Linked DNA regions of Homo sapiens: region 1 is linked to region 2. Evidence: fine-mapped expression QTL. Tissue or cell type: esophagus muscle. Region 2 holds a variant in brackets; the other region holds the start of a gene. All regions are shown on one strand. Distances are from middle to middle.

What was found. PIP is the estimated chance that this variant, and not a neighbour inherited with it, causes the effect.
Region 1: it holds the start of STAC2, and the variant in region 2 is fine-mapped to the expression of STAC2 in esophagus muscle (GTEx, PIP 0.91).

What each region holds. Positions count from the first base shown.
Region 1 is chr17:39,222,841-39,227,943 of GRCh38, forward strand. It overlaps STAC2 (SH3 and cysteine rich domain 2), which reads right to left and starts at 3,105. Exons shown (of 11, transcript NM_198993.5): 1 at 2,573-3,105. The coding sequence starts at 2,662. RefSeq lists a silencer at 531-700 and an enhancer at 2,363-2,863.
Region 2 is chr17:39,641,263-39,646,458 of GRCh38, forward strand. All of the region lies in intron 1 of STARD3 (StAR related lipid transfer domain containing 3), which reads left to right. Among named protein-coding and RNA genes, the nearest start is that of STARD3, 6.7 kb to the left of the region's middle. The variant G/C (reference allele first, on the strand shown) is at 3,027.

The DNA.
Region 1 (5,103 bases), 420 kb before region 2:
TTATTTCCTCAATTCCCCACGGCGTCTCCTGAAAGGGCATGAGGCATCTGGCAGTGGGTGGTGGCAGACGTGGCACAAGCTGACTCACAGCAGAGATGGCATGGGGTGGTCCTCCCAGGGGTGGCAACAAAGGGTGATGGGCAGGCCTTATGTGATAAGAAGGGAAGGAGACCAAGAGAGGAGGAGGACTCGCTAGGAAGGTTGCTGGGTGGCTTGGGTGCAGGGCTGATTCAGCCTGGGGGCAAGCAGGAGGCTGGCCAGTGATTCCCAGGGGGCACCAACACTGATGAATAAGCCTGGAATGTTGGCATCACTGCCTGAAGGGCATTGGCCCCCTCTGTTGTACCTGCCTCACACTGAGCTTGGTGGGCGGCACCCAACTGTACTCTTCCATCTCCACCCACAGTCTGGAGACAGGAGCTTCTTTGGGCCAGGTTGAGGTGCAGGATGGAAGGAGGCTAGCAGGGGTCCTGAGTTCTCTCTCTGCCCACCTCTGCCCTGCTGAATACCCCCGACCCAACCCACAGCCCAGTCTGTGTTAGTGCAGAATCCTTCACAAGAGTGATGTATAGGGGAGGGGCGGAGGGCCGGGGCTCCAGCTGGCCTGACACAGAAGGGCCGGATCAGGGGTGTAACCCCTCCCCTCCCCTACTCCTTGAATCTCCAAGCTCAGACCCAGAGGTGACAACATTGGAGGGTCCCTGGCCTGGGAAGAGGGAGAGGTACAGACCTGTGGCCCTTGACCTTCCCTCCCCACACAGCTGAGCAGGCAGCTTGCTGGAGTACTGAGGCAGCACTACCCCACACTCCTGCCCGCCTTCCAGCACTCCCACATAGGAGGAGGCTGGAGAGGACAGGCCTTGGTGTGGGAAACAGGGCAGGGCCTGGGAGGCCCCCAAGCCCCTGGAGGCAAGCAGGGGGACTGTGTATGTCTACCCAGGTGACTAGAGGGCAACCGAAATCAGGGGCATTGGAACTCAGGGGAGGTTCAGCTCCTAGACCTTCTGCTTGACAGAAGTTGTCACAAATATTCCAAGCAATATCCTCCCACCCAAACATCTTAGTCCTTTCCCAGGAGAGACTGAGACTTGGCTCTCTAAAGGGGAGTCAGCTCTGGCCTCACAGACCAGAGTCTCATTTTTAGAAGGGGGCAAGAGAGAGTCAGGTGTGCATGTGAAGACTTGAATGTGGAGACCTGCTGGGTCCCCTGGTGCAGGATGGGGGCTCCCTGGGGTGCCTCTGCCAGACTCCACCCTGACCCTACGGCCTCCTCCTCCGGTCACTCCCTTGATGACCTTGACCTTGAATTAACCTCAGCTCCTGCGGGATGGTCAAGATGGAAGAAGGAGGAAGGGGGACAGTGGAAAGAAGCCTAGCGAACCCAGGACGCCTCCGGAGCCCAGGCTCCCATCATTTCTGGTCCTCACTGTCCCCTTTCGCCTCTGGAGAACAGGAGCAGGATGGGAACAAAATACCGGGTGAAGGGGGAGGGAGGAGGTCTTGGCCTGAAGTCTGGGAGGTGGCAGGGCGCGCCCTTGGCACAGCCCTTTCTATCCCAACCCCAGGCCCGCTCAGGTTGATCCCGCAGAAACAGAACTTCTCGCGGGCCAGTCGCCAGCACCTAGAACTTGGGAAGGGAGCAGACGGATTAGAGGTCGGGGGAGTGCTGAGTGTGAGCGGCGGCCTCCCCACACCCCTTTCAGCGCCAGGAGTCTGGGCTCCGCCTGCCTTCGCGGGGAGTAATTTATTCATGGTGACTCCCTCAGGAGTAACAATCATCCATAATTAGGGTTAATGATGACATTCATTAATTACGATGACTTCTCTTTTTGCTTCTACCCGCTCCCCCTCCTCTGGTCCCGCTCCCGTGGTGGGGCGCGGGGCTGCCTGTCTTTCTGGTCTGGAGCCACAACCGCAGGCCCCCGTCCTCGCCCGTGACCGACGGCCGGCGCTGCTGCAGGCCCCCTCGCGGACTCCGCAGCTGCGCACCCCCGGCCGCGGCCTCGCGTCCCCGAGCCCAACAGGGCTAGGAGCGGGGAATGCAGGACTGCGGAGGGGCAGGGAGAGACGCCCTGAGACGCGGAGATAAACACCCGGAGACGCCGGGAGAGACGGGGAGAGACGCACACAGAGACACCAAGACACAGACACGCAGGTTGTAGAGACAAATTCAGAGACACGAGCGAGGATAGAGGCGCGGACTGAGCCCGGGACTGGGACCCGGCGGCCGCTGGAGGGTGCGCCTCGCACGCACAGCCGGGCGCGTACCCCGCCCGCACCGCTCCACGCGCGCCCTCCGGCCTCGCTGCGCCCATCTCTCCAACGAAGACCAGTGGCCGCCTCCCCAGAAGGTCGCGATGGCGCGCGCGGGCGTGCGGTGCCGGTGTGATCGGGGGCTCCTTGTGGCCCCTCGTCGCCAACCCACTCCTACCCCCGGGAGCGGCGCGGAGCCTCAGTGGTCACGCGGGCCTCGCGACCGCGACCCTAGGACGCCCGGGCCCACAGGAGGACCCCGCCGGGAAGAGGGCGCCCGGGCCCGGGGCGCGGACAGGCCTTGCGCCCCCCAAGTTACCTTGGTTTCCTGGAGGGCGGAGACGGTCCCTGGGGGGCTGTGGGTGGCCGCGTCATCCGGTTCGTTCTCCTTCTCGCTCATCTCGGTCATGGTTCGGGGAGAGGGGAGGAGAGGGTGCCGAGATCCGACGGCAGGCCCACCGCGGGCAGGCTGCGGGTGGCGGGCGTCTCCGGGACTCTGAAGCCGTTCTCCAGAGGCTGCCCCCAGTTAGCCCCCGGCACGGCAGCCCCCAACCCGCGGGAGCGGGCAGAGAAAGTTGCCGGGGTGGCGGGCGAGGGGAGGCCACCACGCTGAGCCGCAGGAGCGGGACGACCCCGGGCGCGAGGACCGAGGGTCTGCAGAGGATGCTGCTCGCAGCGCGGGGAGGAGGGAAGTGGGGCCGCGGGGATGAGCCGAGGGAGGGAGCCAAGGAGCTGTCCGTGTCCAGCCGGCTCCGCCGTCCGCTGCGCCCGCCCCCCATCCCCTCCCCTCCCCCGCCGGCCCCAGCCCGGCACCCGGCGGCCCCTCCGCCCAGTCCTCGCCGCCCAACTTTGATTTAGGAGGTCGCCTGGTCCCGCCCCCTGCCCTACGCCGCTCCCCCGCGCAGCCCTGCAAATCAGGCTCTCAGCTATTGGCTGCCTCGGTGGCCAGGAGGGCGAACTGGGCGGAGTCTTGGGGGGCTCGACACGATGGGGCGGGGCTTGGCGGGGAAAGAAGCGGAGGAGGGAGTTTCACACTGAAAAACCCGGGATGGAGGGGCGTGACCAGATTGAGGGAAGCTTGGGGAGATCATAGTAGCGTCTGGATGGGTTGCAGGGAATAGAAATAGGTTGGGGCCGCAGCAAGATAGCGGAGAGTGAGATCGAAGCTAGGACTTCCAAAGAGCGAAGATTGATAGATGCCAGAGGTTGGTGAAGGAAGAATGGGGACCCATCTGTGCCATTAATTGGATGCCTTTATACCCTGAAAAGGCTCTCTCCAAATATACACACAACTGGACTATGGTGTATGTGTCAAAGGCCAGGCCGGACAATTCCTCCTTGTGATGGAAAGCCGGATGACTCTATCCCCTTCCAGTCTTGGCGTCTGAACTTCAGCAGAGATGGGGGCTCAGTCCTCACACCCAAAGTCCCCAAACTTCTCTGAGACACGCTCCCCTCCTAAAGATCCTACCACAACTGGAGTTAGATCAGGGGATAATACAGAGAGGTGGGGGAAGAGGTCCTCACCATCACCTTCCAAGGTGCCCCTCTCTCCACAATAACCTTCTATTTTTTATTTTTTTATTTTTTTATTTAGAGACAGGGTTTCACTCTTTCACCCAGGCTGGAGTGCAGTGGTGCGATCATAACTCACTGCAGTCTCAAACTCCTAGGCTCAAGCAATCCTCCCACCTCAGCCTCTCTAGTTGCTGGGACCACAGGCATACGCCACCATGCCTGGCTAATTTTTAAAATTTATTGGTAGAGACAAGTCTTGCTATGTTACACAGGATGATCTCCAACTCCTGGGCTCAAGCGATCTTCTCACTTTGGCCTCCCAACGTATTGGGATTACAGGCGTGAGCCACTGTGCCCGTTCAAGATATTTCCAATATTTCTTCTTCTCCTTCTCTTCTTCTTCTTTTTTTTTTTTTTTTTTTTTTTTTTTTTTTGGAGACAGGATCTTGCTCTATTGGCCAGGCTGTAGTGCAGTGGCTTGATCACACCTCACTGTAGCCTGGACCTCCTGGGCTCAACCCTCCCAAGTAGCTGGGACCACAGGCACATGCCACTGCACCCAGCTAATTTTAAAATTTTTTGTAGAGATGGAGTCTCGCTATGTTGCCCAGGCTAGTCTTAAACTCCTAGGCTCAAGTGACCCTCCTGCCTCAGCCTCCCAAAGTGCTGGGATTACAGGTGTGAACCACCACACCTGACCAAGATACCTCTTCTAATGCATGTTGATTATCTGGGACCCATTTTCTCAGGTCCCCCTCCCTCACCTCCAGCCCTCTTTCCTTCTGCCCCTTCTGGCTCTGACCAGCAGATCTGGCTTCCTCTCTTGGTCTGCCCAAGAAAAGGGAGATGCACTGGTGGCTGAGAGAACCTTTCCCTGGTGTGGGTGGAGAGACTTCTGGGTTTAAGTCTCCCTCCTCCTCTGCTGTGGGTGGTAAGATTGTGGGTGGGGGGTGCCACATGGGGGGCCTGAGGTGCTGAAGGGGGCCCTTATGCTAGCCTGAAAGTTGAGGGGTGGGGTGAACACCTCCACCCCCCACTCACCTCCCCCCATGCACACAGCCATTCATAGGATCTCTGCCCTCCCAAGCACGAGCTCACCATTGGAGCCCTGCTCAGGTTACCCTGTCCAGGAATAGAGATTTATTTGCCAGTGGCAGAAGTAGGACAAGGGCACAGTGAGGGTTCATGGTTGTAGGGGCTCTGACTTCGAGATTTCCTGAGGAAGGTGGGATGGAGCCTGAGTGCCATCAAATCAGTCTCCCCAAAGGCCTGTTCATGGCCAACCTTCCCCCATCTCCCACTGGACTGTCCTTCTCACTCCTGCCCAGCCCA
Region 2 (5,196 bases):
CTTGGACCTCAAGGGCTTAGGACAGATGGCCTTGAAACATCTAGCTGTGATAAGGGAAATGCTGACCCAGAGTTACTTGGGAGGCTGAGGCAGGATTGCTTGAGCCCAGGAGTTTGAGACCACAGTGTCCTATGATCGCGCCTGTGAACAGCCACTGCACTCCAGTCTGGCAACATAGTGAGACCTGTCTCTTAAAAAAAAAAAAAGTGTCATTCTGGGTCAGCCCCCTGAAGCCAGGGTCTACCCTTCCATTCTGCAGTACTGCTGGGACTCTCAGTTTGGGCAAAGTGCTATGCTGGACCTGCCTGGCCAGGGTCCTGCCTCTAACACTGTCCCCATGGGTAATAGTAGTAATAGCTGCTATTAATTAAGCACAGACACTGTGCATGTGTTGTTTCTAATCCCTTCAAGCTCTGTGAAGTAGGTACTATATTCTCCCCATTTTACAGAAAAGGAGACTGAAGTTCAGAGAAACCCAGTGATTTGGTCAAGGGCACACAATCTAATAAGGAATGGCCTTAGGTTTTTGCCTCCAGGACTGGTGTCCAACCCCAAACCCACACCCTTTTCCCTGTTCCAGGGTGGACATTATGGATCCACAGGCTAACTTACTAGACATGTATCATGGCCAGGCACTGTGACTGTGACTTGGACCTCAAGGGCTTGGGACAGATGGCCTCGAGACATCTAGCTGTGATAAGGGAAGTGCTGACCCAGAGTTCTGAAAGGTCAGGGGAGTCTGGAGGGTGAGGAGAAGCTCTGCCCCGGAGGTGACATTTGAACTAGTCTCTGAAGCGCCAGAGTTCTCCCCAAAGGAAGGAGGTCATTCAAGAATGAGGAAACAGGGCGCCCAGGCGATGGGCTGTGGTGTGTCCTGGGAGCAGCCAATGATCAGCAGAGTAGAGGCAGCGAGTGTTGACCCCCATAGCAAAAAATGAGTGCTGGGGTCTGGAGTCCTCCCTCCTCCTTAACCCTCCTCTGTTATCAAAGACTCAAGGTTAACTCACCTTACGTCTTCTCCCTACAAGTCAGGCTCAGGGAGGGGAGCAGATACCCTGCTTGAGGACCCCCAGGAAACCAGTTCCTCTTTCCTTCTTGTGGAGGGAGTGCCTGGGCTCTGGGCAGGGAAGACCCCCACAGAGGGTGGAGTCCAGCTCCAGGAGAGGCAGCCTGGGCAGGGAGGGGCTGCTCTCCCGGCTGGGCGTGAGTGTCCATGTGCACTTGTGCATGTGCTGCTGTAGGGAAGGGTGTAAATGGCCGTTCAGTGCATTTCCTGGAAACCCACTCTGAGCCTGGTACAGTTCTGGCACTGGGCATGCAGCAGGGAGCAAAGCACAGGAAGTCCTTACTTTCATGGAGTTCGCATGCCAGTGGGAGACGATGGGCAGTAAACACAGACCAGTGAATGTATCATATGTCAGGGGTGACAAGTGCTGTGAAGAAAAATACAGCAGGGTAAGGGATGGAGGGTGGGGGCTAAATAGAGGTTCAGGAATGGTCTCTACAAAGGGACATTTGCATAGGGACCTCATTGGAATGAGAGAGCAAGTCATGCAAAGACCTGGGGAGGAGCTCCCGACAGAGCAGCAGGTGCAAGGGCCCTGGGGTAGGAGCATGCTTGATGTGTCCGTGGACAGCGAGGGACCAGTGTGGCTGGAGTAGAGGGCTCAAGGGGAAGAGGAAAGGGGAAGAGGAGGACTTGTAGGCTAGGGTGGGGACTTACGCCTTTATTCTGGGGAAGCCATTGGAGGTTGGGGCACTGGGGAGATGTGATCTGGCTTTTAACAGGATCCCTGTGGCTGCTGTGTTGAGAACAGGCTGAAGGGGTGAAGACAAGAAAGAGTGGCAGGTAGAGGTGATAGCCTGGACAGGGTGACATAGTGGTAGGTGAGCAGTGGGCAGATACTGGCCAGATTTTGCAGGAAGAGACAACAGGATTTGCTCATGGTTTGGATGTGGAAGGGAGGTGTGACCAGATGAATGCTAAGCCCAAAGAGGGCCTCTTGACACACTGTCCCCCAGCTAGCAAGGACTCTTGCAGGCAGCAGCATTTGTACTTAGAAGGTCCCAGCCTGTCATGGGGGAAGGTCATGTTCCTCTGGGGTCGGCTCCGCTCTGCCTCTTCCTGGCTAGGGGACTGTGGGCAGCTCTCCTTCCCATGAGTCATCACTACAGCTTCTGGGAAGGGGTGTGATGCATTAAGGAGATGGTGTCTGCATGGTGCCACCGCAGGCCATGGCCAGCTGGATCTGTGTCTTCTGCACCAGCCCATCTGGATGCAGTGCAACCTGTCTGGTCTGCTATCCTGCGTTCCCCTAACTGGCACCCTCCTGGGCCAGCCAGCAGCAGGACATAGACCAAGGCCAACCTCCTCCACACCCAGGGCCTCTGCCTTCTACCCTCTGTGGAGTCTCCATTAACTTGGCATTGACAGGGCTGCTTGACTCAAAACAACCCCAGCCCTGCCCTGAAGCCATCTCGCCAGTCAGTCAGAGCTCAAGACTCTCTCTTTCTCTGGAGAAGAGCAGGAAAGTAATCCCAGCTAACCCTCATGCAGCCACCACTCTGTGTCAGAATCTCTTCTAGGCCATTGCATTGAATAAGTCATTTAATCCATATAAACCTGCAAGGAGTAGGTGATATTGTTAACCCCATTTTATAGGCGAGGAAACTGAGGCATGGTGAGGTTAAGTGACCAGCAAGGTGGAAATCTGAGGTTTGACCCATCTCCTGGTGTGGAGTCCAGTTCTCTCAGCTTCACTGATCCTTCCTGATTTGTGCTGAGTTAGGGACCCCTTGGGAAGCCCCCATGGGCAGGGGGTGCTGGTGCTAGCATTTCCTGTGGATTATGGGAGGGGGATGTGTGGAGGACCTGTGTCTACTGTTCCTCTAGCCTCTGGGGGATTTGGAGAACCCACTCTGCCCAGAGATGTAAGTCATCTTTGGATATAGATGAGACTTGTTCCCCCTCCCCCTGAATCCCAGGGCACAGCTCTATGGAATAAGCTCTAGCTGGAACTTGTAAA[G/C]TTTGGCCCAGCCCTCCCTGGGAGGCTAGGAGGTGGGGAAGAGCCAGGAGACTCGAAGTGGTGGTGGTAGTTAATGTCTATGTGGTTAGACGTTAACCAGTTACTCTGTGGTGCCAGGCACTGTCCTAGGCACGCTATAGTTATCATTGTCTCCTTTGGTGCCCCCAGACAGCCCAGGGTCAAGACAGGTAGCCTCAGTTTACAGATGCAGCAGTGGAGGCTTGCACAATGAGTAGGTGGCTTTGTTCAAATCACAGACCTAGGCCAGGTATAAAAGCCTAAGTGTGGTGTAATTCCAGCACTTTGGGAGGCCAAGGCGGGGAGATTGCTTGAGTCCAGGAGTTTGACACCAGCCTGGGCAACATAGTGAGACCCTGTCTCTACAAAAAAAAAAAAAAAAGAAGAAGAAAAGAAAAGAAAAATTAGCCTGGCATGGTGGCATCTGCCTGTAGTCCCAGCTACTCAGGAGGCTGAGGCAGGAAGATCACTTGAGCCAGGGAATGTTTGAGGCTGCAATGAGCTGTAATCACACCACTGCACTCCAGCATGGGCGACAGAGTCTCAAAAAAAAAAAAAAAAATCGCAGACTTGCCTTGGCTAGGAAACGCCTACTGAGAGCTGCCGTCGGTCAGCTGGGCTTTGGAGCCGCCTCCCTGAAGAAAGGTGTCTGGAGCTTCTGGCCTGGGGTATGACGAAGGGCTAGCAAGGAACCCTGTCTGTGGCTCTGCAGCCTGAGATTTGTGGAAATTGAAAATTGGAGGTGGGTGAGTGGGAGGCGGCTTAGCCATCCTGCTGTCCTCCTCTTCTGTCTGCGGGAAGGGGCAGCCGATGCTGTTCCCTGGGTGGGAGCTTGCAATTGCAGAGGGGCCGGTCTCAAGAGGAAGGAGTAGAGATCAGCCCCTGCACTCCCCTAAGAGCCTCTGCCAGGAGCCAGGACAGTCCTCTACTTCCTGCCCCTCCCCCAACCTGGAATTCACCTCTGCCTGCAGCTGGATAACCTGGCCTTTCTATAGATGAAGGAACCAGGCTAGAGGGTTAGGGAGCTTGCTCTGAGCCACACAGCAGGTGAATTGTAGAGTTCAGATTTGAACCCACGCCTTTTGGGGTGATTTTTATTACATGTCACTATAGTGTATTTAACCTCCCTCGCTCACAATTTCCCTCTTACTTGAAAGGTTTTTGTTTTGTTTTGTTTTTTTGAGACAGAGTCTCACTGTGTCACCCGGGCGGGGGTGCAATGGTGTGATCTCGGCTCACTGCAACCTCCGCTTCCCGGGTTCAAATGATTCTCCTGCCTCATACTCCCAAGTAGCTGCGATTACAGGCACACGCCACCATGCCTGGCTAATTTTTTTGTATGTTTAGTAGAGACGAGGTTTCAGCATGTTGGCCAGGCTGGCCTCAAACTCCTGACCTCAAGGGATCCTCCCACCTCAGCCTCCCAAAGGGCTGAGCCACTGCTCCTAGCCCCATCTTACCCGAAAAGTCTTGCCAGCTACTTAATCTATCTCAACCACCACTGACCAAGCGGTTACCATACTCCCTCCTGACACCTACCTCAACACCCATCCCTGTGACATAGGGATTCTTGCCTTTTTTTTTTTTTTTTTTTTTTTTTTTTGAGATGGAGTCTCACTCTGTCACCCAGACTGGAATGCAGTGGCGGGATCTTGGCTCACTGCAACCTTCGCCCCTCAGGTTCAATCAATCCTCCCACCTCAGCCTCCCAAGTAGTTGGGACTACAGGTGCACACCACCACACCCGGCTATTTTTTGTAATTTTAGTAGAGACAGGGTTTTGCCATGTTGGCCAGGCTGGTCTCAAACTCCTGACCTCAGGTGATCACCTGCCTCAGCCTCCCAAAGTGCTGAGATTATAGGTGTGAGCCACCGTGTCTGGCTTCTTGCCTTTTCTTGTCATGGTAAAATATACATAACATAAAACTTACCATTTTAACCTTTTGTTTGTTGTTTTTTGTTTTGAGACAGGGTTTCTCTCTGTCACCCAGGCTTGAGTGCAGTGGCACAGTCTCAGCCCACTGCAACCTCCACCTCCCCGGCTCAAGTGATCCTTCCTCCTCAGGCTCCTGAGTAGCTGGGACTGCAGGTGTGTGTTACCACGCCTGGCAAATTTTTGTATTTTTTGTAGAGACGGGGCTTTGTTGTGTTG